Linked DNA regions of Homo sapiens. The protein of the gene in region 1 interacts with the protein of each later gene in a biochemical or structural test. Each region holds a gene or a part of one and is shown in the gene's direction. Other genes may lie near its edges.

Region 1 (7,000 bases):
GGAGCAGGCGAGGCTGCAGGAGTTTGACCTTGCCTGAGAAAACTCAGAAGAGGCAAGAAGGCTGTTATCTTGAGCTAACTAAGTAAAACTGCTTTAAAAGAAAAAATCATTGCCTTAGTGCTTGTTGCATGCGTAGTATTGTTTTCTCAGCACACGCCGTGTCTTAGAAATGTACTCTGCTCCCTCTAGTCTCATCTTGCAACCACAGGACTAAAGATTTCAGCCAGGATTTGGCAGTGGGTTTCACGTCTGCTTGAAAGCACCATCTTTGAAAGCTACAACCAGACAGAAACTCACACGGCTGGTTTGCTGAGCAGTCTTCTTAACGTTTTCTTTCCTCAACTTGCTTGCCGCCCTCTGCAGATGTGGTCAACATGAACAGAGAGCGTGTTTACTTTACCATATCAGGTGTTCTTCAAAATTAAAAGGAGCATTTGATGAGGGAGATGGACTTTAAAACATGGCTTTTGAGAGCATCCCACAAGAAGCAGTCCCAGGATTTAAGCCCTCATTGCTACAGCTCCGTTTAACATTATGTGGGTTTTCCTTCCAACGGCTTGGTTCTGCCTGCTCCCATGGAGATAGAGAAGGGGACTTGCTTGGAAGTTCAAACACCGCCTCCCTGTCTGACGTTTAGCTGTAGAAACAAATTGTTATGTGTGAAATTAATGTTTCATTGAAACCAAGAGGTATTGCGTTTTTATGGATCTAGAGTGGGCTGTGCACACACAGCTCTGGGTTTTGCATCTCCGGAGCTGCCCTTGGAGGCAGCGGTGCTATTTGAAGGTGGATAAATATTACAGAGTGTGGCTCTCAGCCTCTGGGGTTGCGGTTTCATGTTATTCCTATGGGGAATGTGCTGTGCCCCGTCCTGTTCTTAATGTTTCTGGGAAATCGTGGGCTTATTGTGCTTATTTTAAGCACAGCTCACCTGGGCTCCTTCCCACAAGGCACTTGATCCTCAACTTTGAAGCTGAATGTATCATTTGACTTGAACGTGAGCTTCCTGCAGCCTGGTCCAGTTTGTTCACCTCTGTCATTGTTCCCCGAGAAGATCAGCACCTCCCTCCCCTGCCCTCCCTTCCCCTCCCCTCCCCCTTCCCTCTCCCTCCCCTCCCTCTGCCCATTTTCCAAATCTGCTCTGTGCTGCGCCTACATGGTTAGTGGTATCCAAGGCAGTTGAATGCAGAGGTGATTCTGAGCAGACTACCCACACTCTCTGTTCTGCAATCTTGATGAACCCGATATTTGTGTATATTTTATACCCAGAGAGCTAGAGCTACACATCAGAAGAGCTTCTGAAACTTGTTTCTCTGAGTTAAGAGGTCAAGAACTAATGGTATGTGGCAGCTTCTACTATACTACCCATGGCCTCTCCCCAAGTTTGCGTGAGAATTCCATCATGACATCTGCCAGGTGTCGAGTTCCTGGAGGGCAGGTGAATTCTCTTTCTAGGGCTGCCAGGGCAAAGTGCCACAGACTATGTGGCTGAAGCAACAGAAATGTATTTTCTTGCAGTCCTGGAAGCTGGAAGTCAGAGATCAAGGTATTGTCCAGGTTGATTCCTTCTGCGGCCTCTCTCCTGGGCTCGCAGATGCCACCTTCTCCCATGTCTCCACATGGTCTTCCCTCTGTGTGTGTCTGTGTCCTCATCTCCATTTCTTGTAAGGGCACCAGTCATATTGGATCAGGGCTTATTCTAACCACCTCATTTTAACTTAGTTACCTCTTTAAAGGCCCTGCTTCCAAATACAGTCACATTTTGAAGTGCTAAGGACTTCAACGTATGGATTTTGGTGGGGGGACACAGTTCAGACCCTAATAGCAGGGAAGGGGTCTCAGCTTCCTTTGCATCTCCTGAGTTTAGAAGTGGATCTTAGAGTAGTCTAGTGGGAGACAGCAGATGGACATGAACAGCTAGGATATGAGGGGGCAAGTGTCACCCTCCCCCGATAATGCTGATGGGGAAATCAGGGAAGACTGCATGGAAGAGGGCATCAAGGCTGACCTAAAGAATGAGTAGGTGGAGTGTATAGGAGATGGAGAACATTCCAGAAAACAACATTCCAACTTGAGCAAGGTCTGGGGGGTAGGAATTTTGAAGGTATGTGTGTGTTATATAAAGTGAGAGTGAATGCATTGTGCATGGAGACAAACCATAGAAAAGAAGTTTGGAAAAAATAGATTAAAAAGTCAGCTCCCGATGGACCCCAGATGTGAGGCTGAAGAGTCCGTGTCGCAGTGACGAGTGGTGGACATTGCAATTGAGCTTCAGAGGCAGCCTGCCCGGGTCTGTATCCTGGCCCTGCCACTCTCTGGCTCTGGGATCCAGGTCAAATGGACTAAATTCTCTGGACTTCAGTGACCATATCTTGAAAATGGGAGAAGTAAAGGCTCATAGGTTTGTGGTGCAGGTGAAGTGAGATCTTCCATGTCAAATGCTCAGATCAGAGCCTGGCCCACAGCAGGAGCTCAGAGAATGATATCAAGAAACAGCCCTGGAGGCACTGTGGGGGATGGGGCTGGTGAGGGCTGCAGGGTGAGACATCTGGACAGAGGCTCAGGGAGGAGCTGCTGCCAGAGGGAGGCTTGGACCAAGGCTGTGGAGGGGGCTGAGGGAGAGGAGAGTGGGCTGGAGAGAGGTGCGTGGCTGGGCGCACAGGACGTGGCTGCCCCGGCTCTGCAGGCCTCTCTGTCCTGGGTGGTGCTGGGCTTCTAGGCTCCAGGCCAGCCTCCAGAGTGCAGAGACCATGTGAGTTCTTAAATGAACGGGTTCAAATCCACGACAAAGCTGACTTGAAGCCTCGTGTCCGATGCTTGTGGTTTTGTGATGTCAACTCCAGTCCACCTTAGAGGACAGCTTGGTGGCTCCAAGCTTGGGGTTTTGTATTTAAGTATGCTGAACTTGCTGTGCGTTACTCTGGAATTCTAGGCCCACATGGTGTGGGCCTCCCAGCATTTGGGGTGGAGGCTGGATTGGAGCCTGAGGTGTGGCCCCCGGTGGCTGAGCTGTGGCTGGTCGGCCTGTGAGTGCTGGGCCTCCGTCCAGAGGAAGTGCATCTCTGTCGTGATAGCTCATCACCAAGGGTGTCCAGCGGCCACCTGGAGAGAGACAGAAGCAGGCAGAGGTCAAGGGATGTGGTGACCAGGGGTGAGTGCCTGTCATACTTGCTGTCAGGAGCTGGCTGCTGGTGGGGCAAGCCTGTCCGGGACCCTGGGCCTGGCAGCTGGATGAAGAACCATGAGGGAGCCGGGGACTCTGTGTGGAGAGAGGCGGCAGCACATGGGGACATGCAGAGGGCGGGCTGAGTCTAGGGAAGTCTCGGCGTGCAAACCACAGGCTCGCACGGTGACCCAGGGCTTCTGCCCTTGCCCCAGTCACTCGACACTCAGAGCATGGGTTGAGAGCTCCCAGCAGGAAGGGGAGGGTGTTGTGCCCAGAACCCTCCACGTGGCCTCATATTTGCCTCCAAAGCAGCCGGCAGGCCTTGTTTCCTGGGTGCTTACCCATGGGGTCTGCTGGGTGCACTTTGCGGAAGTCCCCATCCTTCTGATTCTCCTGTGAGCCGGGAGGATGGGGAGCCGTGCTCTCTCTCGACCTGGGCCCTAGTTTCGTCATCGTGTTTCGGGTGTCAGCCCTGGGGTGCAGAGGAAGGGCCTGGAGCCAGTGGGATGGGCTCCTTCTCTTGAAGTGCTTGTGGTCCAAAGCGGGGTGGGGGCAGAGAGCCCCAGGGATGCAATTCAGGAGGAGCGAAGTGGGGCCGGTGTGGAGGCACAGTGCAGGGAGAGCAAGGTGGGGCAGGGGAAGCTCAGTTCACCTGGGGAGGGGGTCACATGGGCCACAGGTGGAGGAGGATGAGGATGACTGGCAAGGCTGGGGAGGTGTGGCTGAGGGGAGCAGCAGAGATCTCTGAGGTGTAGAGGGCAGGTGAGCCTGGTGGAGGGGCTGCCCGTGGCCATTGCCTGTGCTGTGAAGCAGGGGCTCCCTGAGCAGGGCTCCTGCCCATGGTGTTTCCTGGCTGGGGTCCGAGGGAGGCTGTTGCTGTGGTCTGGCCTTCACAGACTCACTCTGTGGCCTGGGTGGGGCGGGCCGCTCTGGGATGGGGAGCTGCGTAGACCCGCTTCCCTGGCCTGGGTGGGGCGGGCCATTCTGGGAAGGCAGAATACAAACTCTGCCTTCGTTTGTATTCTCATCCAAGTTCAACAGATGAGACCTTGACTGTGGATCCCCCATGTTCTGTCCTCTCTCTGCACCCCCTCAAGTGCTGGTCTGTTCCTGTTGCCTCTGAGGACCCCTGAGAAGCTCCCAAACCCACTCTCCCACTCCCCAAAATCAGTTCACCTGACCTAAGGTGCCCTGCCTTGCTGGGTCCTTGCCTGAGGGACCGACACTCCCGGGGAATGCGAGCAGGAGGGGTTATGGGATAGAAACTGGCTTTGGGCTGGAAGTCCACCCCTCTGGTGCACAGTGGGGAAGCGCAGAGGTGGGGGAGGCTGGATTGTCTTCGGTTGCCCCGCGTGCAGGGCAGCAGCGTGGATGGGCTCTCGTGCTGCTCTGGAGGCCCTGATCCCCCCTCGCTGGAAGTGCTCAAAAGGAGGCTCCATGTCCATGCTCCAGGCCACTGCAGGGACTTTCGGTTTGGGGTGGGAAGCGGGACCACCAGGGGCCGACTGAGGGGTCCAGAGTTGTGGTTGTGAGCCCAGATTCCCAGCCGGACCCAGGGGTGCACTCCATGCTGTTCCACATGGCCTCTGGCTCTGACCCCGGGGTCCCTCCCCTGCCCTCCAACACATTAGTGCTGCCTTCCCTCTCCTCCCTGGGGAGCCCTGGGTTCTCTCCCTGCAGCGCTCAGCTGGGCACTCACTCCTCCCTTCCCATCATGCTGGCCACCCATGTAGCCAGTCTTCCCCAGGCCTCAGTTTCCCCATCTGTAAGGTGAGCGTCAGGACCAGACCATCTCCAAGGTCACTACCAACCCGGACGTTGTTTATGCTTAGTACACATTTGCTAATTTATTTGTATTTTATTTATATGAATGGAGACCGGGAATGAAGTAGAAGAGACTTTGGAATGCCCAGCCCAAGAACCTCACCGCAGCCTCTTTCAAGTAGTAATGAAGGAGGCAGATTTCCATGAGAGTTGAGCTTCAGGCACAGCTGGTCTCACCCGTGCCTGCTGTTCACGCTTGGATGAGGACTGAACCTCTCTGAGCCTTTTTCCTCATTTATCAAATGAGGATCATGGTTCCTGTGTGTCAGGCCAGTGCTGGGGCCACACACTCCATGGATGGGGGCCTGGCCAGCAGAGCCACCAATGTCCTCCTTCATCTTATTTCCTAAGAGTGTCGACCTCACTTGCATCTTCACTGTCTTCTTGAAACTAGCTCAAGGCCCGGCTCGTGGTGGCTGTTGGCCTCAGCTCTTTACCGAGCTTCTCTGTGTGCCTAGCGCTGTTAGCTGCTGAGGATTCAGTGAGGGGCCAAGTCAAACTTGGCCCCTGCGCGGGTGAAATGTTTGGTCTGGACAGGAATTCACCCCAGCGCGTTCTAGGTGCCGTGTGAATCTGCGCTGGGGAAGTCTGGGAAGATTTCCTGGAGGAGGTGAAGATGGAGCTGCTCTGCAGGATGAGTAGAGTCCCGGGCTGAGGAGGAGGTTGGAATGGTGAGAATATTAAGGCTGAAGGAGAGGCCTAGGGGCTGGAGCAGCCTGGAGCGCTCATGGGCACAGGAGAGACTCGTGCGTTGATCAAGAAGCCTGGCTCGAAGTCATAGAGACAGCCCTGTTAATAAAGTTGCTGAGCACATTTCACAAATCCACTTTTACTTTAATAAAGGGCGATTTAATTTGTAGTTGCGTGAAGGTTCCTGAGAGTATTCTAAAGAGGTCATAAATTAGCCTCATTCCTCGGCACGCCCCTCAGATGAGAAGGCAGCCCAGAGCTTGCGTGGGCCTCTCGGCGTAGCCGTTACTTTATTTTATGGTGATTTTTCAGAGTCAGGCTAAGACTTGTGCAGATGATTCGATGGAGAGCAGACTGGAGTGACGGGCGAATCAGCTGGGACGCTGCCGAGAACCCCTGTGCCTTTTCCGGTGCAGGAAGAAATGGAGGGGAAGCTTGTACGTTGCCTCCTCTTTTGGGGCCGCCTTGTCTTTCTTTTTTCAGACTCCAAAGGATGAGTTATTTATAGGTTCTTACGAATGGCCCACTTTGTCCTCGCCCCTCCTTAGTCGCTAGTTTGGGTGGGTGCTCTGTGGATTGCAGGGATGCCGATGACCTGAGAAGCCTGGCTGTGCTGCAGCTGCTGTTCCTGACCGACGTCCTCCCCTTTTGGAAGTCCAGGGAGCAGAGATCCCTGGCTCTGGCCACCGGGAGGGCAAGGTCTCCGTCTGTAGCTTTGGAAAGGTGAAGGCATGTGTTCTGCATTGGTTCACATCCTGCTTTTTCTTGGAAAGCGCCGTCCTGGATGTGAGCTTGGATTCTGGGTGTAGAAGAAGTGCAGACATGGGGCTGTCAGTCTAAGTGGGTGGTGGGGGTGGGGAATGCCCTGTACCTCTCTCCCCGCTCCCAGCAGGTTCCCACAAGCACAGACCATCCCTGACCTGCTCTGCAAGGCTGTAAAACACAGACTTAGGCAATTTGCTCACTGCTGATTGATATGCAGCCCGCTGAGGGCAACAGCAACGTCTTTTCCATTCAGCCTCATGACTCGGGACCGCTTCCCAGAAGGCCTATGGTGCTTGTCACCTCTATTCCAATTAAGCTCCATTTGTCATTAAAAAAATGGAATAGGGATACTTGAGTGAGTGAGGACTCTCCTTGGAAGACTGGAATAAAAGGTAAAACTCCAGTGTCCTTTTGAGGTGGAAAATCTCCTTCTTATTTTGCATTTCTATAGCAGTCAGTTACTGTATTTGCACAGAAAATTACAATCATTTAATTAGTTTCTTCTCACACCAGCTCGAAGATCTTAAAATAACAGCACTCTCCTTCCTTAGTAAT
Region 2 (10,785 bases), on another chromosome or scaffold:
GTGGCCAGAATGCTTTTCTAATCCCTAGTGCCACTCCAAGTCCCCCTACAGAGTTAAAGCCTAAAATGACTTCAAACCCAATGGAAGACATTGTGTGATGGAAACAGTTCTAGTTTTCCAGTTGGCTTTCTAGCCATGAATTTGTGTCCTGTGTCCTTTCTCCAGCAGGTCAGGGAAAGTGCAAAAGGCAGGCTTTACTCTACATTGACTGCCCAGTGCTAATGGGTAGGAGCACGTCAGCCATGGGACTCGCAGGGAAACTTGCCACACTTTGAATATAGGAGTCACCTGGCTGTGTCTTGTAACCAGTTGGAGACTTCACTCACAGATGTCACTCTGGGGCTACTGAAAATAGAAGAAATCAGATAATACAAAATTTCTAACTGTATTCACATTAGTGTGTTCTTTGTTTTCTTATTTATATTCACAGTCATGAAAGAAAATGAGGTTAAGTACCTTTACACATGGTAAAACCAAGAAACTGAAAAGTTTAGTTACTTCCCTGAGCTCACAAAACAGTGACAAGACTCTGGATCTCATTTCCCTATCTCCCTGTCTCTAACCCAGGATAATTCTCTGGATTGCATTGCGTGTCAGAATTTCTCTGTTCCTACAGTGTAAATTTCAGCCTTAAGCTCCACCTACAACTTGCCATTTTCGCCCAAAGCATTCAAGATGTTCTTTTGCATCCAGACCCTCCTCCAAATGAAGAAAGCTGCAGTGAAAATGCCACTGAGTTGAGGGGTTGCAAACCAAACCTCCATTCCCATAATTCAATTCTCAGGCCCCAGCCTTCTGCTAAGGCTAACAGATCCACTCCAAAATTTTAAGAGTCCACAGTGATCAAAAGCATCTGTATATTCTGAAACATGCAAATCAACCCTGTTTTTCACATTCATCTCAACATTTGGTGGAGGGCACAAGAGTCAGCTGGCTGCTGAGTGGACGCAGCTTAGCAGATGAATGGAAGGGTCAAATCCCTCTCAAGATTTGTAGAACTGGATCTGAAATATGAAATGCCAGCATACGTGATGAGAGGGATAGTCTATCGAGTGTTTTATCATCCAAAGATGGAATTAATGGCTATGCCATATCTGTGTCAGACCCCGGCAGTAAAACTTTATGGGTTCTTCCCCGTGAAATATTTTGTTTATGTCACGTGGGTCTCATCGGATGTTTTTTTCTCTTTTCTTCACTTCCCCTCCCCACCCTTTTCCCTGCCCTCTTTGTCTCCTGAGACCTATTCCCTTTGGAAATGCATTAGTTACCTAGGAAACCTTAATGTCATTTTTTTATGAGTGGAGTTTGGTGCAGCATAAAGTTAATTTATAGGGTGGTTAGGAATTCATGTCATGACTGGTGAAATAGGAGACTTTATTATGATTTCTACATCCACCTGTGTGGTAGGAATACATACCTTCCCTCTATCATTACGGGTAATTTCTTGAAACGTAATTATGAATATGTATGCCATGTCACAGAATAAGTTGATTCACCGTTGTTCAATGCAATTCATTATATTGTTCAATGTAAGCCCTAGAACATAATTAGCAATAACAACAAACCAATAATATACCAGGCAATCTGTTAAGAGTTGAAGGATATGGTGGAATTTCCTTTTAAATGATGAGGTGGTTCTGGGTGAAAGGCAGAGAATGAATAAGACGAGATTTTGAAATCCTTCAATTCTGTCTTTCATGCACATTGAGGTCCACGTTGGGAAGCTATATAAATTCTAAATATGTCCACTACTTCATTCTGCTGATTTATTTCTGTATTTGTCCAAAGGGGAAAATATACATCCATAAAATTACATTAATGAAATGTGTAGTGGCATACAAATAATAATACACAGGCCATTCCAGAGCCAAGCTTCTTTCTAAAGATAGCTCATTCCCCCAGTGGTGTGACAGTGTTTCCTGTGTAAGGACTAGCAGATCGGGACTGGCATTCACATTGTGCCAGGCACTGTGTTGAATGTTTTAAATTAATTAGTTCCTTTGGTCCTCATATTACTTCTATGAGATTGGTGTTGTCTTCACCAATTGCAGATGGGTTCTAAGAAGTTAAGAAACCTGTACAAAAGCACATGGCTACTGAGTGGAGAAGGTAGAGGGGAACCTGCTTTTCTCAGGCACCAAAATCTACTCTGGCAGTAAATTCTAGGTCGTGGTCTGTCATTATGTTTTTGTTTTTGTTTTTTGTTATTCTGAGTTTCCTCAGTTATTAAATGCAGAGTGGGGGACATAGGGGCTGATAGAAGTTTATCTCTGATGTCTGTATTCTGTGTAGAGAGATCAATGCTAGTCCTTAGAGCAAAGCTGTGCTTTCTTAAAATGACAGAAATTTGGGGGAAGACCTGGTCTTGTTAAATAAACATAAACAAGCCACTCAGTTTCTGTGGACAAGTGCATGCGAATTGAAAGAAAAGAAGAATGTCTCACAGGTGACTCCAGGTCATCTGAGAGGAATTGCTATATGGCTTGACAGCCTGTAGCTCTTGGTGAATAATGCTGTTGCCAGTATATAGAAACGGGTGGGCAGCCAGGAATCTTTCAAGTGCGGAGGCACAAAGGTAGCATGAAGCCGCCTTTCCTGACCCTTAAGCTCCCAGTCCCTGTGCAAACACCTTTTGCATTCACTTTAATTGTTTGAAAAACGAAGACTTCCAGACTCCATCAGCTCTAGCAGCTGTCTGGGTGGATGGGGGTGGGGATGGAGGGGGTAGGGCGAGACCTCCCCACAGCGCCCTCCAGCAGCAGAAGATGCAACTTGCAAATACTTCAGGATCAGTGAGAAGTGTGGTGTTTATTTTAGTAACCTCAAAAGAGAGAAAAAGAAAAGCAGTGGAAGAGGACAGACATTCAAGGCTAGCTACACGATCATGGGGAAAAAAAACAAGCTTGTCTTTGACACGGAAAGGGTCCTTGGAGGCCATTCGGTCCACTTCTCTCATTTCCTGGGTCAACATGTCACAATGAATTAACCACATACTGCCACTGCACAAGACCCCCTCCCTCACCACACGCTGAGCCCCCACCACCAGCATTCAGTCCACTGAGCTCAAACATAGGGAGATAAGTGCTGTTTTCACAAGATAAAGGCAAAATTCAATCCCACGTTGCCGTTTTGTTTCTGTTCAGTGTTCCAACCACAGAGTGGTGCTATTGCAAAAGATAAGGGTAACCAGAAGGCACGCTCTGGAAATTTGCTTTAGGAGAGAGTTTTAAAGGGGGTTTTCAAAAACAAGATCTGATTCCTGCTCTCAGAAATCACTTCCAGGAGTCAGGGCCTTACTCTCAGATGCAGCAGGGAGAAGAAGAAAGTTCAGCAACCTAAAAATACAGTCGACAGATGGGCAGCCAAAGTCATGGCCACGAAGTCAACTTGGAGAGGAGCACCTACCTAGTGAATCCTAAAAGATCTCATCCTGGATGCTTCCTTAACCAGGCCTATGTACAGGGCACAAGCTCGCAGCCAGCTTACTTTCCAGTCCTGATCTTTGCTTTTGCTATCCATACCAATGGTATTTCTATAGAAAAGAAAAATCTCTATTTAGAAACACGGATTTACTTAGAAGTCACAATATTCTAGTTTAAAAATGGCTCTACATAGTAGAGAATGATCTTTTTATTCTGTCTTCTTAAAAATACACCTTTCTAATTCTTTTTTTCTTCCCACCTTCTTCATTCAGCACCTTGCCACTCCCTTGGAAGCCACAACAGCGAGCTGGGGGGTCAGTCCCTAGTCTTAGAGGGAAGAAATCTTTAGGTCTGAAGTCTAAAGAAAAACAGTAAAGGAAAAGGCAGTTGGCGGTGCTCAAGGTAGACTGTCTGAAAGAGGTCTTCTACTCAGAAAAGGGCTAAGGCTCTCCCTTTGGGAAACCAATCCTTCTGAGAAAAAGTGCATCTTTCACCCTCTGCTCCTGTCTGGGTCTCTCCCTCTTCCTCCCTCCTTCCCTCAGTCCCTCCTCCCCTCTCTCCACAAAGACACAGCACATATTTGGCAAGATTAAGGTGTCACCTCTCATATTACAAGGCCTGTTGATTGCAAGCAAAGACAGACCCACCAGCTTAGGACAAAACCCCTTGGAGTTGGAAATAAGACAAACTCTGGGATCCCCGAAAGTCCCGGCAAAATGACGCGGCCAGCCAGTGCAAGGCATCTGCAGAACAAATCCAAGTCCTAAACGCACTGCTTGCTGCCTTTTCTTCTCCTTCCTTTCTTCTGATTTTTCAAGTTTGTTTGCCCCCCTTCCCCTCCTCCCTCCAGACTGCCAGGGACCTGGGAGCTGCCTGCAGATCAGCCCGCACATGTATTTAACCCCTTCCCTGCTGCAGCAGGAGCCAACCACCTCTTTCCTTGCAATCTTCAGGTTCCCAGAGGACCTGGAGCTTGAGAAAAGAACTCTGCCAGTGGATCTGAAACTGGGGCCTGAATCCCTCCTTTGACCAGGGCGAGAAGCTGGAGGAGGGGGGCAAGTGCGGGAAGTGGGGGAGGGCAGGGAGGCGGGCCAGATGAGAGGGAGAAAAGCAGAACCCGACAGAGCACGCCCAATCCAAACCTTCATGGTGCTGTGTGGCTGGGTGGAGGGAACGACTCGGCAGCCTCTTCTGGCCCTGAGGAAGACGTCGATATTTTGGCACGAGGGGAGCCACTGAAGGACTACCCTACCCTTGCGAGGGACCGCAGGAGGTGACGCCCCTGGGCCTCGGTGGGCGCTTCTGGCGGTTTTCGATGTGGCAACCCCCATCAGCCAGGATAATGATGAGGCAGGTACAATCTATCTAGTACGCAGCCCCCAGACTCCCCCCTCCCTTCCCACCTCCCCATCCAACCCCCCAGCTACTCTCTGCGGCCGGTTGGTCCTGAACTGGTGGGTGCAGTTCCGATGTTTAACCAAATTCTCAAGCAATTTCAAGGTATTTGGATTTTTTGAACCTGGGCCCTAACCGAAACGCGGAACGGCTTGCTTATTAGACACCTCGAACGACAGGGCAGGGAGGAAACGGGATACTCGCTGCCCTTCCCAGTCGCGCGTGAGTCAAAAGGTCCTGGCAGGAGATGATGTGAGGAGCGGCTGAAGTGGCAGGGAGGAAGGGATGAGGGGCTTGGAGCGGAGGTCCACCACGCAAGGACTCGGGAAGCGGGCAAGTGGGCAAAACTCTGCTTCCGGGCTCTCGATTTCTCGTTGATCACTAAGTGGTATTTTTCCCCCTTCTCTCGATGGCAAATGGGCGAAATCAAGATGACTTAACTTGGTAAATTTAGAGAGAACGGCTCGGAGCAAGTGAGGTCTAACGGGCAGCTAAAATTATCTCCAAATAAGAGATTTTGACCCCCTCCCCCTATCCTCTCCTCGAATGTATCCACCGGTGGGGAAGTGAGCGTCATTACTTTCGGGGCGCCACGAACAGGTTTGTTTGTTGCTCGCCTTTCCTGCTTCTCGCGCTGTCCCCGCGTGCAGACTGGTGGGTGCTGGGCGAGTGATTAGCTGCAGGGCCCCATCCTAGTTTGGAAGGAAGGGGTTTAGAAGTTGGAGGATGGGTGAAATGGGAGGCTGCGATCCATCTCCCTCTCCCTTCCACACTCAAGCTCCCGCAAACACGCGCGCGCACACACAGCCCCTCCCTAGTCCCTCGGACCACCCGCCCCCACGCCCCTCTACCTTGACCTCCCTTGACCGCCGACACAGCGTCCTGGGTGCGGGTCCCCGGGAGCGGGGAGTTCGCCGGGGAGCGATTGTCCTTGGGCGTGTTCGTGCTGTGGGGTGGGGGGAGGAGTGGCGGGTGGGCTTGGTAGGGGGTGGGGAGAGATCTGGAGCTGGAAGGGTCTAAGGTTTGGAGGAGGAGTTTACGCCTCAGACCTGATCCTCCTGAGGAAAAAGGCAGGAAAAGGCCCTGATGCCTTGTAAAGAAAATCTTGAAAGAAAAAAGATCAAAAAGAAAAATTTCAAGAAAAAGAACCACTAAGAAAGGCTGAAGACACTAACATGTAACCTGTTACGATACATTTAACGTTTCGTTTTTTCCTGGATCTCTAAAAGGGAACTCAAGGGTGGGGGTTACTGAAGAATACTACAGATTTGGAAGTTTTTGTTGCTGTTGTTGTTTGGTTTGGTTTTGTTTTTCAAGAGGGGCCAGGAGAAATGACCCCTTCCCCGCCACGGGTCCCGAAGTGAGGGCGGGGGGGGGGCTCTGGGGCGCGGGCGCGCGCGGCGCGGCGCGGGCCGGCGGGGGAGGGCGGCGCGGCGCGGAAGGGGTTAAGGCGCTGAGCGCGGAGCCATCTGGCCGGGTTGGCTGGTTATAACCGCGCAGATTCTGTTCACGGGACTCAGAGTTGAAGCTCCTCTCCCTTCCGAACAGCTCCGCGCACCGCCCCGCGACGCAGCCCGGCGCAACTACTTTCTTCTCTCTCCTTTCTTTCTTCCTCTCCTTTTTCCCCTGCTGGGTAGTGGCTGCGGCGGGGTGGGGGAGACTTTGAATGACCGAGCTCGCGTCCACCTTTCTCTTCATGTCGACGTCCCTGGAAACGGCCACACGGATGCCATGGTTACTTTTGCCACGGTAAGGGGAGGCGGCGGGCACCTTGGGTGGGCAGGTTTGGGGATGGGGGTCCACGTGGGGAGGGATTTTCCAGTGGACTGGTGCGGGGGGCCCCAGATCCGCATCCCGCCCCACCCCCATCGCGCCGCGCTCACTCACTTTCCCGGGCTTGTGTCTTCCCCAAAGTTTGCGCTGGGATCTGCTCAGGCCGAAGCGCAACCGCAGCCACCCCGCTACACACACACACACACACACACACACACACACACACACACACACACACACAGACACGGACACCCTTCTCCACCTCCTCCCCTCTTGTCCCTCGGCTGCCCAAGAAGCTTCCCTCAATCTGGGAAAGTGATCAGGTTTAAGGGACCTGGATTGGAAAGGGTGGGGGCAGAAGAGGGGAAATGGGGACGACGAAAGAGCAGGAAAGAGATTCAACAGAATCAACCACCCACCACTCCCAACCGACCCGCCTGCTCCTCCGAGAAAGCTCCTAGCGCATCCTATAACAAAAGGGGGTGGCAGACAGAACTCCGGGCGGGGAGGTGCCGCGGCAGCTCCCCTGCACACGCCCTGCACTCTGCCGGCCGCTGAGCCTGATTCTCAGCTCGCCCCAGCACCACTCTGGCCCGGGCGTGGGCTGGGGGGAGGGGACGCGCAGCTCAGGACCCGGAACCTCGCGTTCCAGTTTTGGGAGTTGGGACTCACTGCCACGCGCCGCGTACCTGCGTTGGAGTTCCCCGAAAGGGTTTTTTCAGAAAAGACCTCGCGCCCCGGGCTCCTCTTGGCCAGCGCCCACCCGGTGGCCACCCCACCCTGGGCCTTTGCGCAGATGTTGGAGCTCCGTACGCAGCCCGCACATCTGGGACCCCTCCGGGGAGCGGCGGGCACCCGGGCCCGGCCATCCCAGGGGATCTCCTTGCGGTATCGTCCAGCCTGTTCTCGGACTTTGAGCGGTGGCGTGGGAGGCCGGGAGACCTGGGCACCCGCGCAGCCAGCCAGGTCGGAGTTTAAAGGTCCCACGACGGACCGAACTGTCCCATTGCCCCAGAGCTTTACTCAGTGGTGGATGCTCCTGATGAAATTTGGGACGCTTGGGAGTTGAAGGTTAGGGACAGGAGGGGCGAGGGCCGAGGGCATGGGATGGGGGAGTAGGATTCTGCTTGTTGCTCTCCGCGGGAGTGGGTGCGCGTCCAGGAGGCGCTGCTTCTTTGCGGGAGTTTGGCTGCTGCGTTCATTCGTCGTCTGCGCTTCAGATGCACGGCACTGAGACCCTTGCGTCCGACGGTGTCGGGGCTGTGGACTAGAAAGGATCCCTTTTGCTGGAATCGAGGCTGGGGTGGGATTGCCGGTGGGGGAAACACCGAAAAGATCGTCTGGCCTCGGCCTCTGGCGGCGGGCGGCAGGTTCTGAGTCCGAATGGAGGTTGCTCCCGGGAGCGCCGGGCTCAGAGCTAGAGAGCTCGGGAGACTGTGCGCCTGTGGACTTGTTTATGTGTGTGAAGAGGCGGGGGCGAGGGCCTGCTGAGAGGGGAGGGGAGCCTGGAAGGGGTGGGTGTTTCTCCTGGAGCCTGATGTTTGTAACTCAGCTGATTATGGAGTGCACTGAGCGACCTGCTTTTTAAATAAAGAGGTGCCCGCTCCTACCCCGCAAAACAGCGAACGAGGAGAACATGGAAGCGCTCTGTCCTAAACGTCAGGATGGGAGAAAGTTGTAACATAGAGGAGACTTTTCCAGAGGTCCTGTTTTCACAACACTCAGAAGTTCTCCAGCGTACTCAGCCTGCCTCCCGCCTGCCCTCAATTCCTTTTTGACATGTCACACAAAGAAAGCTGAAAGGTAGAATGTGGAGGATAAACTCCAACCCCCTCTGCCTTGGGCGCAAACACACAGACTTAGGTATCGTGTTAGGAGGTAAGGGGGTTGGAAAATAATGCAGGCTCCGGTAGACAGTGTTGAAGGGAGATAGAAAGTCTGGGGTATTTCCCCTAGGGAGAGTGTGTGGGATTTTGTGTTGGTGAGGACTGGAGTGTAGCTGGACTTAGAGGGTTTGGTTGTGTGTGAATGGGATATGCTTATCTATGGAGTGAGATTGTGACCATTGAGTGAGTGGTCAGGGAGGGATGGGGATGTTTTTCCAAAGTGTGTGTGTGTGTGTGTGTGTGTGTGTGTGTGTAGGGGAAGGTGGCAAAAGAGCTGGAGTCCTATCCCTCTTTGGTGCCTGGGAGGTGTGTGTTTCTGGGGAGTCTGTCGGATGGGCATCTGTGTGCTTAGCGGGAGACAAGAGCTTGCAGGAACATAGGTGTAGCTAATGCGAAATCTGTGCCTATGAAGGGTGTCAGAGCAGGAGGAGAGGTGCAGCCTGTTGAAGACAGATGGCTTGTGCATGCCTGCACAAACACATGGAGTGGGTGTGGTGTAGGAGGGCGGCTGTGTGTGTGAGGGAAAGGTGGATGCATGTGGAAGGTTGGGCGCCTGAGGATTACCAAAGGGATGTGTGTGGGGGGTGGGGGAAGATTATCTGAGGAGCACGGGGTTTGAACTTCATGAGGGTGCACTGGGAAATTTGGCTGGAATGGCACTGGGGCATGTAGGGGGTAGAAAAGTGTGAGCTCAGATCCTCTTTATGGAAAGACAAAGCATTTGCAGGGAAGGACACCGGGTTGGTGTTGGTGTTTGCCTCCCCCCTCCTTCCTCCCCAGAGAGAAGAGAATTGGAGGAGGCTTAGAATGAGGGATGTACATTTAAGGGGAAAAGTCCTTGTGCATTGGCACTGGGTGGGAACAGGAAGAGATGTGTGCATAAGACTGAAGTAAGTAGAGGAATGCACTATCTGTGCCTGGTGTCAGGGATGCATGTTGTATAATGTTTTGTAATGGGTTTCTTATGTAATAGGAGAATTCACTATCACCAGTTCATATTGATAATCAATTAAAGCTAATGGAGTGCCTACTGGATGCTCAGCCCATTGCTGGGTACTGGGGCATGGCACACTGCCCTGGAAAAATTCCTTCTCCAGGCTCAGTAAAACTGATGCAATTTTGCCAGAAATAGACAGAGCTCGACGCTTGTTGAGGTTTCTTCAAGGTCTATAATTCAGTTTCTAGAGATGTTTATGGATCTTGGGGGCCAAAGGGAAGCTGACTTGAAATATATCTCTGGTTTTGTAAAAAGTGGGGCATAAAGAGAGGGATGATGTAGACTTTTGTGTATTGGGAAGGGAGCTGGACGGTGTTGTTGTTTCTTGTGTGGGGTGTGGGCTGGGAATTGGAGGGTGCTGCACTTCAGGTCAGAATGCAGGTCCAGATCCCTCTAAGGATTGAGTTTCTAAGAGTACACAGAGCCTCCTTCATAGCTGGAATGAGACCTGTTATGTGGAGCTGGAGAATGGTGAAGTCATGATCAAGGAAGAGATGGACTGGGAGTGTTTGTTCATCTTTGATGTTTTCTGGGCTACGAGTGTAAAGCTAACCTGAGTGTGTGTTGGGGGGGTGGGTATGCATGCAGGTGCGTGCACATGCACTTTGGCCTGGAGTAACGTAACTGGGAGAAAACTAGCGAGGTGGATAGGAGGGGTGGATATTCTGGCTCTTGTGAAGGGGGTGCCAGTATGTGTTTTTGCAGGAATTCTGTGTGTCTGGGGAAGGATAAAAATTGTCTTGGATACTCAGATGTGCATCTTTAGCGAAAAAAGGTGTACACAAAAGAAGGGCCGTAGACTTTGGGGAATGAGACAAAGGTGTCGTTGATCGGGTCCATACCCTGAGATGGCTGGTGAGGCAACTGGGTAGGAACAGAGTGAAGGCTGTGCTTTTGTGATGCACACATCTGCCTGTCTGGAGCAGACGATGGGGATCCCCATTTGATTAGGTTCTGACCACCGTTGGGCATATGTTTGGGAGGACTTTATTTGACTCATGACATTTTTGAATTCATGAAGTTACAGCTGTGCCATTTTAAGGGTCTACCTTATTTTTGAGAGGGAAACTCATCTGTGTAAGAGATAGTTTATATAGGGCTTGACTATTGGTCAGAAGATCCGGGGCAGATATTTCTGAGAGCAGGGTGGTGAAGTGCAAGACTGGATTGGGAATGTCTTAGTTCTAGTCCAGTTCTACCACTTGGGAAAAGTGTGACTTTGGGGACATTTTTAATCTCTATAACTCTTCTGTTTCTCTTTTTGTAAAGGGGCAATATAATGACTCAAGGAGAAGGAAAGTTCACTCCTCTT
Region 3 (7,000 bases), on another chromosome or scaffold:
CTCAGGTTCCTAAATCTATGCTCTTCCTGTCCTTGGAGCAAGGATAGGTCCTGCCAGATCCAGGGTGGCACAGAGTTCCCCACCCAAAGCTGGAAGGGGTGAAGAAGATCTGGCCCTGTTCCTTCCCCTCCCTGTACAAGGAGGCAAGGACCCTGGCGTGCCCAGCCTCCTTCTCCTTATTCTGGAGTGCACATCCAGTAATTAAGAAAACATGAGTGAAGAATGAGCTTGGACATCTCCCTTGCATCCTGGCCGAAAGGGCAGACGACGCATGTGCAGATCTCAAAAGGGTGATCATATAGTTGTGCAGCTTGTGTACTGCTCAACAATATCCATCTGAGAGAGTGAGTGTGGGCTAAGAGCCAGCTCTCTAGCTTCAGTGGCTCCTGCCTTACCTGAGCCCTCTTGCCTGCAGGTCCGTCCCCACCCTCAGGATCCAAGCCCTTCAGCAGCATGGGGGTAGTGCCATGGGTGGGAAATTCTGCTGTCTAACCCCGGTCACTCCCATTTAGGCTGCATCTGAGCCCACACCTGTGTGGAGAGGAACTGAAGGCAGATGAGGCAGGAGGCTCCCTAGGGGAAGGCCTACCTTGCCTGGACCGGGTTAGCAGCCCAGCTCTGGCCCGCGGGGAGGGCTGGGTGGGAACCACGTTCAGATTATTCCTTAATCATGCTGGGAACATAGTACAGGCCTGGGAACTCTCAAAGAGAATTTGCCAAGAAACTTAGCGGCACCAGCTGGGTTATGCCGGAAAGCCTCCCGGCCGGCCAGTGCTTCTGGAGCCTGGAGGATGCGGCTCCGGGCCTCCTCCCCCTTTCCCAGTTGGCTGCCACCAACTTTCACAGGCTAGGGGTCAGGGTCCCTTGGAAGAGGGTGGGAGCCGATGAGAAGGCTGAAGGAGGAAGTCAGCGTCCTGGCAGGCAATAGGGGAGGGAGAGACTCCAGCTCCTGCGTCCCGGGTGCCCAAAAGAGCAGACGACTAAATCTGGTGTCCGCTGCGCTCAGGCGTGACGTTCTCCGACGTGGTGAGCGCGACCGAGCCGTGCAAGCCGTGCACCGAGTGCGTGGGGCTCCAGAGCATGTCGGCGCCGTGCGTGGAGGCCGACGACGCCGTGTGCCGCTGCGCCTACGGCTACTACCAGGATGAGACGACTGGGCGCTGCGAGGCGTGCCGCGTGTGCGAGGCGGGCTCGGGCCTCGTGTTCTCCTGCCAGGACAAGCAGAACACCGTGTGCGAGGAGTGCCCCGACGGCACGTATTCCGACGAGGCCAACCACGTGGACCCGTGCCTGCCCTGCACCGTGTGCGAGGACACCGAGCGCCAGCTCCGCGAGTGCACACGCTGGGCCGACGCCGAGTGCGAGGGTGAGTGCGGTTCGGGGGGCGGGGGGAGTGGGGGTGCGGGGGTGGGCTGGGGGCATAAGGAAGGGCGCTCTCTGGAGGTCGACAAGGACCCTGCCTGGCCTGCTGGGGCAGCTTGGTGACCTTGAGGCAGCGTGCACCTTCCCTGAGCTTCAGTCCTTTCCTGGTAACCTAAGGGAGGAGGTCATTCCCCATCCTGTCTCAGCAAAGAACCCCTCTCTGTGTTACCTTCTTTGGGCTGTTTGGAAAGTGGGCGTTCTCAGCGTCCCAGGCCGCGGGTACTACATTGTAACTCATCCTCCGGGACGCATTTCTCTGTGGCTTCCCGCTAGTGATTAGCTGAACAGCAAGCAGCTCGAAGGTGGCCACTACCCCCAGGGCACAGAACGGGAGAGGTCTGATCCATGAGGCAGGCTTTCTGAACTGGAAGAGCAGCTTGAGGACCCTCAGGAGCTGGGACCCTTTGACTCTGAGCCCTGGTCTAGGTCCATGGTGGGTTTTGGCTCTGGGACCTGAGATGGAACCCACCCTGTCCTTGACTGACGTTAGGGAGTCCACTCCTGTCTCTGGGCCTCGGTTTCCTCACTGGTCATATGGCTGCCAGGGTTGTTGCGGGTTAGGGAATACAGTGGGGCTGGCCCACTTCAGCTTGCCCTGTCTAGGGGAGGGGTCAACCGTGTTCCGCAGTTTAGTGAAGGATGAGGGGCATGCAGGGAACACTAAGGAGGGGCTCTGTGGAAGAAGAAGGAGGGGAGGGGCAGACCTGGGGCTCAAAAGCCCGGGGACAAGGCAGTGCATGCTCGTGGCTGTCAGCTCCAGGGATGGATGGGAGCTGGGCGTGCCCACCTTAGCCAAGCACAGGCCCCAAGGAGATGGGGTGGTTCTTGGGATGGGAGAAGGAAGCCCCGTGGGAGCCAGGGCAGAGCTGTTTTGGTCTCTGGTTGGTGACGTCCGTCTCAGGGGAGACTGGTGGGCTTTTCCACTTCGGGGAGAGGCTGGCAGTGCCTTTACATCCTGTCCATCATCCTGTGGCCATGCACACATTGAGCTATTTCCCTTTGAGAACTAACCTGCATCCTCAGGTTGCCTTTACCCTGAGCAGGCAATATAGTACCTCCTTCAGTGAGCCCCCAGTTTGATGGGAGAGATAGCCTTCGCCCAGTCTAATGAGAGAGACGTGGTCCCAGCACTTAGTCCCCAGCTGAAGGAGAGATAGCTCTCACTTTAGAGATCCCCCATTCTGATGGAGGCAGCAGAGCTTCTGCCTCAGTTAGCACCCAGATCTCCTGCCCCTGGGGACCCTCCAGTCTGATAGGGGCTCCAACCCACACCTGCCTTCCAAGTCCTGCCATCTCTGGCTTTAGGAGCTCAGGATGGGGAGGGCTGTTACGCTGGGCTAAGGCCAGGTTGAGCTCAAAGCTTCCTGCCTTGGAGAAGGAATGAGGAGTAGGATGTGGTGGTTCTGTTGGCAATTGCCCTGGGCCAGGAGACAGGCAAGTGGCATCAGGCGCCAGGCAGAGCGCAGGAAGGGTTTCAGCAGCCAGGCATCAGGCAAGCAGGCAGCTCATTTCTGTAGGCAAGTCCAGACCAGCCAGCTGGGGGCGGGGCGGGGGGACTTGGGGGCGCTGCTAGAGCAAAGAAAGGTGGTGACTGTGGGAGGAGCAGGCTTTGTCTTTTGGGGCATTCACAGATTCCTCTCAGATACCAGCCCACTTTCCCAGCCACCCCGAAGGAGGAGGGTGCTCCTGAGGGAGTGTTCATACCAGACCCTGTTCCCCTTTCAGCTTCAGGCTCTGAAGGGTTAAATGTCAGCTCTGGGACAAGAGACCATTTCAGGAAATGGAATTTGATTCTTGGTTTTGTTGCCCCCTCCCCTCCAGCGTACCATACTTTCCCCGCATTTACTTACGTTTCAGGTGTCAACATGGTGACTCACCCACCCTCAGGGCAGAAGGGCTACCCGCTGCCCCAGTGAAATTCGGTTTGAATAGGGATAACCTGGTCCCTCCATGCAGCCCGGAAATGGCTGTCAGGACCTGCCAAGGGCTTAGTAGGTTGGAATGCTAGTGGACGTGGCCACATCTGGATCTCATCCCCCCGCCCCCGTCAGAGGGGATTGGAGAGATGAGGGCAGCTCCCCAAGAGTCAGTGCCGCCTCTGGTCTGGCCACGCCTTGCTACCCTCCCAGCCTTCCCCTACCATGCTCTGATCTCGGTGATGGTCTCATTCATTGGGCACCCGGACATGTACACTCCTTCACCCTCTGGCTTGGGGTCAGTCTGAGCTGAGCTGTGTCTCCAGCCTCTGGACTTGGGCTGCCCCCCAGCTTGCCCAGTCCCCTGGCAGAGCAAGAGAAGACCCTCCCCAGTCCAATGCTCCACCTGGGGCTGCCAGAAGACAGGGCTCTGTCTCCTTCACTACCTCTGGCCCCTCCCAGGACGGAGACGGGGAAGGGTGGTTTGGGTGACAGATGGCAGCCCCTCACTGCTGGCAGCCAGATGGATTCTAGATTCACATCTGGGGGCTTTGCCCCTCAGAAGGTGCTGAAAACGGGCCTTTGAAGCATTTCATCTTGAGTGGAAGAGGCCAGAAGATGGGTGGCAGCTTCTACTCCTGCTTGGGTGGGCAAAGTGGGGGCTGGGAGGGCAGAGCTGGGAGCCAGTTACCCTCCCCTTCACCCCATTGGCATGTCCTGCCTGCTTTCCCTCCCTGCCCCAGGCGTGGGAAGTGAGGAGGGACGGGGTAGGCAACATTGCCCAGACAAGTATCCCCAGGCCGTCCAGAGCCCACAACCCCTAGCACTGCCCCTGGCTGTGTGGCAGAATGGAAAATCCCACCCACTGGTGCCAGGAAGGGCTGGGTCCCCTGCCAGGGAGGCTGGCAATGCCCAGCTAGCATGAGAGGGTCTAGGTGGGTGGCAAGTCACAGTCTCCCCCCGCCAGCTGAGGCATTGAGCTGGACCTGCCTCATGGGCCCCTTCTCCACTGGCTCTCTGCTTCCTGACCAAGGAGGGTTGGGGCTACCTGATGCTGTCATCTCTGGTTGGCAGGATCAGGCTAGGTGGGAGCCAGGCAAGACAGGAAACAGAGGCTGGCCACTGTCCAAGGGCTGGCTGGAGGGAGGCAATCCAGCTGCCCCCGCACCCCTCCTTTCCACCCAAGCCTAGAGCCTGAGACATGAGGTCAAAAAGTCGGGGAGTGCTCTCAGGGAGGTGGTGTGGGGGAAGCACCTCTCTGACCAGACCTGTGTACCCTCTTCTTTCCTTAGGACAGGAGTGACTAGGGTCATCAAGGACAAGCTGGGGCCAGAGAGACATTTCCCAGAGTGACTCCAGCTCAAGGCCTCCCTGTGGTCAGGCTTCTTTGTGTGTTTGCTCCTAGATAGGCCTCTCTAGGTACTCAGGAGGTGGAATAGAATTCCAGGACCATAGCCCCAGATGGAAGGGAGCTTAGAGACTGTCTCTCTTAATAGCCCCATTAGATAAATAAGGAAATCAAGGTTCTGAGAGAAAAGGGGGCTGGGCCAGAGTCACCCAGCAAGTCAGTGGCGAAGCTGAAGGAGATGCAGCTCTGTGGGCCCACAGGCCTTGCTCTTTAGCATCATGACATCATGCACGCAATCCCAGCTGTGCATAACAGCTGGGCACAAGAGCACCTGGAGCCAGGGCGGGGACACAGGAAGAACACGGCAGTGGGTTAGAGCTAAAAGGGAGGAGTGGGGGAAGTGGGTCCTCACTCCTGTGGCCTTTTCTCCCAGAGATCCCTGGCCGTTGGATTACACGGTCCACACCCCCAGAGGGCTCGGACAGCACAGCCCCCAGCACCCAGGAGCCTGAGGCACCTCCAGAACAAGACCTCATAGCCAGCACGGTGGCAGGTGTGGTGACCACAGTGATGGGCAGCTCCCAGCCCGTGGTGACCCGAGGCACCACCGACAACCTCATCCCTGTCTATTGCTCCATCCTGGCTGCTGTGGTTGTGGGCCTTGTGGCCTACATAGCCTTCAAGAGGTAAGAGAGGGCACGGTGGCGACAGAGAGGGGAGATGTTTGCCCTCAAGGAAGACTTTGCTGTGACCTTGACCTGAAAACATACACACCCTTTTAACTCAACCCCAAACCAAGCTCATCCTCACTCATCATCTGCCGCCCCACTCCAGGGTGCAGCAGGTCAGCAGGAGGTGAGGGGAGAGGATCCACCTGTCCTGTCCTGTCCTCTCCTGCCCTGTCCTGGCTCCAGCCCCTCCCACTCCCATGCCGCACCACTCCCTGACTCCCCACCCCCAACTGCTTGTGTCCTCATCCCCAACCTCCTTCACCCCACAGTCACCTGCGTGTGCATATGTCTCTTCCCCTTCGCTTGTCACACTGGGAATGCTGTGGCACCCACATCCAGGAATCCAGGATGTGCACGAACTCCCAGAAGGCATTTTAAAGCTTTAAATGCATTTTCCATTCTTTCTAAAAAAAAAAAAAAAAAATCATCAAAGTAACACATCCGTGTTTAGGAAAATGCAAACAAGACCAATATCTTTCAAAGCAAAAAGTAAAAGCCCCCTTTTATCTCCCCAAATCCTACTTCTCTCCTTATTGGAATCTGTTTGAAATGGATCCTTCCCAACTATTTTCTGTGTGTCTTTTTTTATAAACATGTATATAAACCTTTTATAATTACATGTAAACATGGAGGGCTTTTTAGGCATCAGTGAGATCACATTGTACATATTCTACAGCTTACTTTTTTCACTCAGTCTCCCTCAGGAGACCTTTCCTCAGGAATGTAGATTAGCTGATCATTTGTAACCACTCATTCAATAGTATGGATGGATGGTAATTTATTTAGCCAGTCCCCATTGATGGACATTTGTTTTTTTTTTTTTTCCAGTTTTTTGTTATTGCTTATAATTGCAGAGGAAATCCTTTTATATGTCACTGCCCACATGTGGGAGTATTTTAGAAGGGTAGATTGGGAGAAGAGGAGTTCCTGAGCAGTCACTTTTGCTGCACTGCTCATTCCAGGAACATTTACTGAACACTTACAGAGGGCCCCTCTGCCCTCATGGAGCTTTCAGGGTAGGTGGGGGCAGATGTGCAAAGAGGAGCCTTAGATGGTGGGGTGGCGGTTATAATTGGGCACCCGCCATGCCCCTGGCCCTCACACGGCAGAGCACAGATACTCAGCTGCATCGGCCACTACAGCCCCTCGCCCCCTGAAACCTGGCCTGTCCTCTGGCTCCAGGTGGAACAGCTGCAAGCAGAACAAGCAAGGAGCCAACAGCCGGCCAGTGAACCAGACGCCCCCACCAGAGGGAGAAAAACTCCACAGCGACAGTGGCATCTCCGTGGACAGCCAGAGCCTGCATGACCAGCAGCCCCACACGCAGACAGCCTCGGGCCAGGGTGAGCAGCGGCCCGCTGGGGAGCTGAGGCGGAGCTGAGGCTGAGGAAACAGAAGCAATTAAGATTAGACTCCAGGAAGGACTGTCGGGGGGGCGGCAGGGCTGGCTCAGCGGTGCCCCTGTAGATGGATGGAGAGGCTGGCCGAGGGGAATGGGAGGGAGAGGTCCTCTCTAGAGGAACGACTTGGGAAATGGAGGCTTTTACAAGTTGGAGCATCCAGACTCATCAAGCTAATTGTCC

The links.
Region 2: the proteins of SORCS2 (region 1) and NTF3 interact in a biophysical measurement, tested with the Homo sapiens proteins (one study listed by IntAct).
Region 3: the proteins of SORCS2 (region 1) and NGFR interact in a biophysical measurement, tested with the Homo sapiens proteins (one study listed by IntAct).

Annotation. Positions count from the first base shown.
Region 1 is NC_000004.12:7,195,538-7,202,537, forward strand, and holds part of SORCS2 (VPS10 domain-containing receptor SorCS2), read left to right. Parts: intron 1-7,000. UniProt on the Homo sapiens protein: The heterodimer formed by NGFR and SORCS2 functions as receptor for the precursor forms of NGF (proNGF) and BDNF (proBDNF). ProNGF and proBDNF binding both promote axon growth cone collapse (in vitro).
Region 2 is NC_000012.12:5,425,777-5,436,561, forward strand, and holds the start of NTF3 (neurotrophin-3 isoform 1 preproprotein), read left to right. Parts: upstream 1-6,331; 5' UTR 6,332-6,548; coding exon 6,549-6,566; intron 6,567-7,492; exon of another isoform or gene 7,493-7,556; intron 7,557-10,785. UniProt on the Homo sapiens protein: Seems to promote the survival of visceral and proprioceptive sensory neurons.
Region 3 is NC_000017.11:49,505,293-49,512,292, forward strand, and holds part of NGFR (tumor necrosis factor receptor superfamily member 16 precursor), read left to right. Parts: intron 1-364; exon of another isoform or gene 365-1,006; coding exon 1,007-1,366; intron 1,367-5,119; coding exon 5,120-5,372; intron 5,373-5,524; exon of another isoform or gene 5,525-5,608; intron 5,609-5,690; exon of another isoform or gene 5,691-5,821; intron 5,822-6,599; coding exon 6,600-6,760; intron 6,761-7,000. UniProt on the Homo sapiens protein: Low affinity receptor which can bind to NGF, BDNF, NTF3, and NTF4. Forms a heterodimeric receptor with SORCS2 that binds the precursor forms of NGF, BDNF and NTF3 with high affinity, and has much lower affinity for mature NGF and BDNF.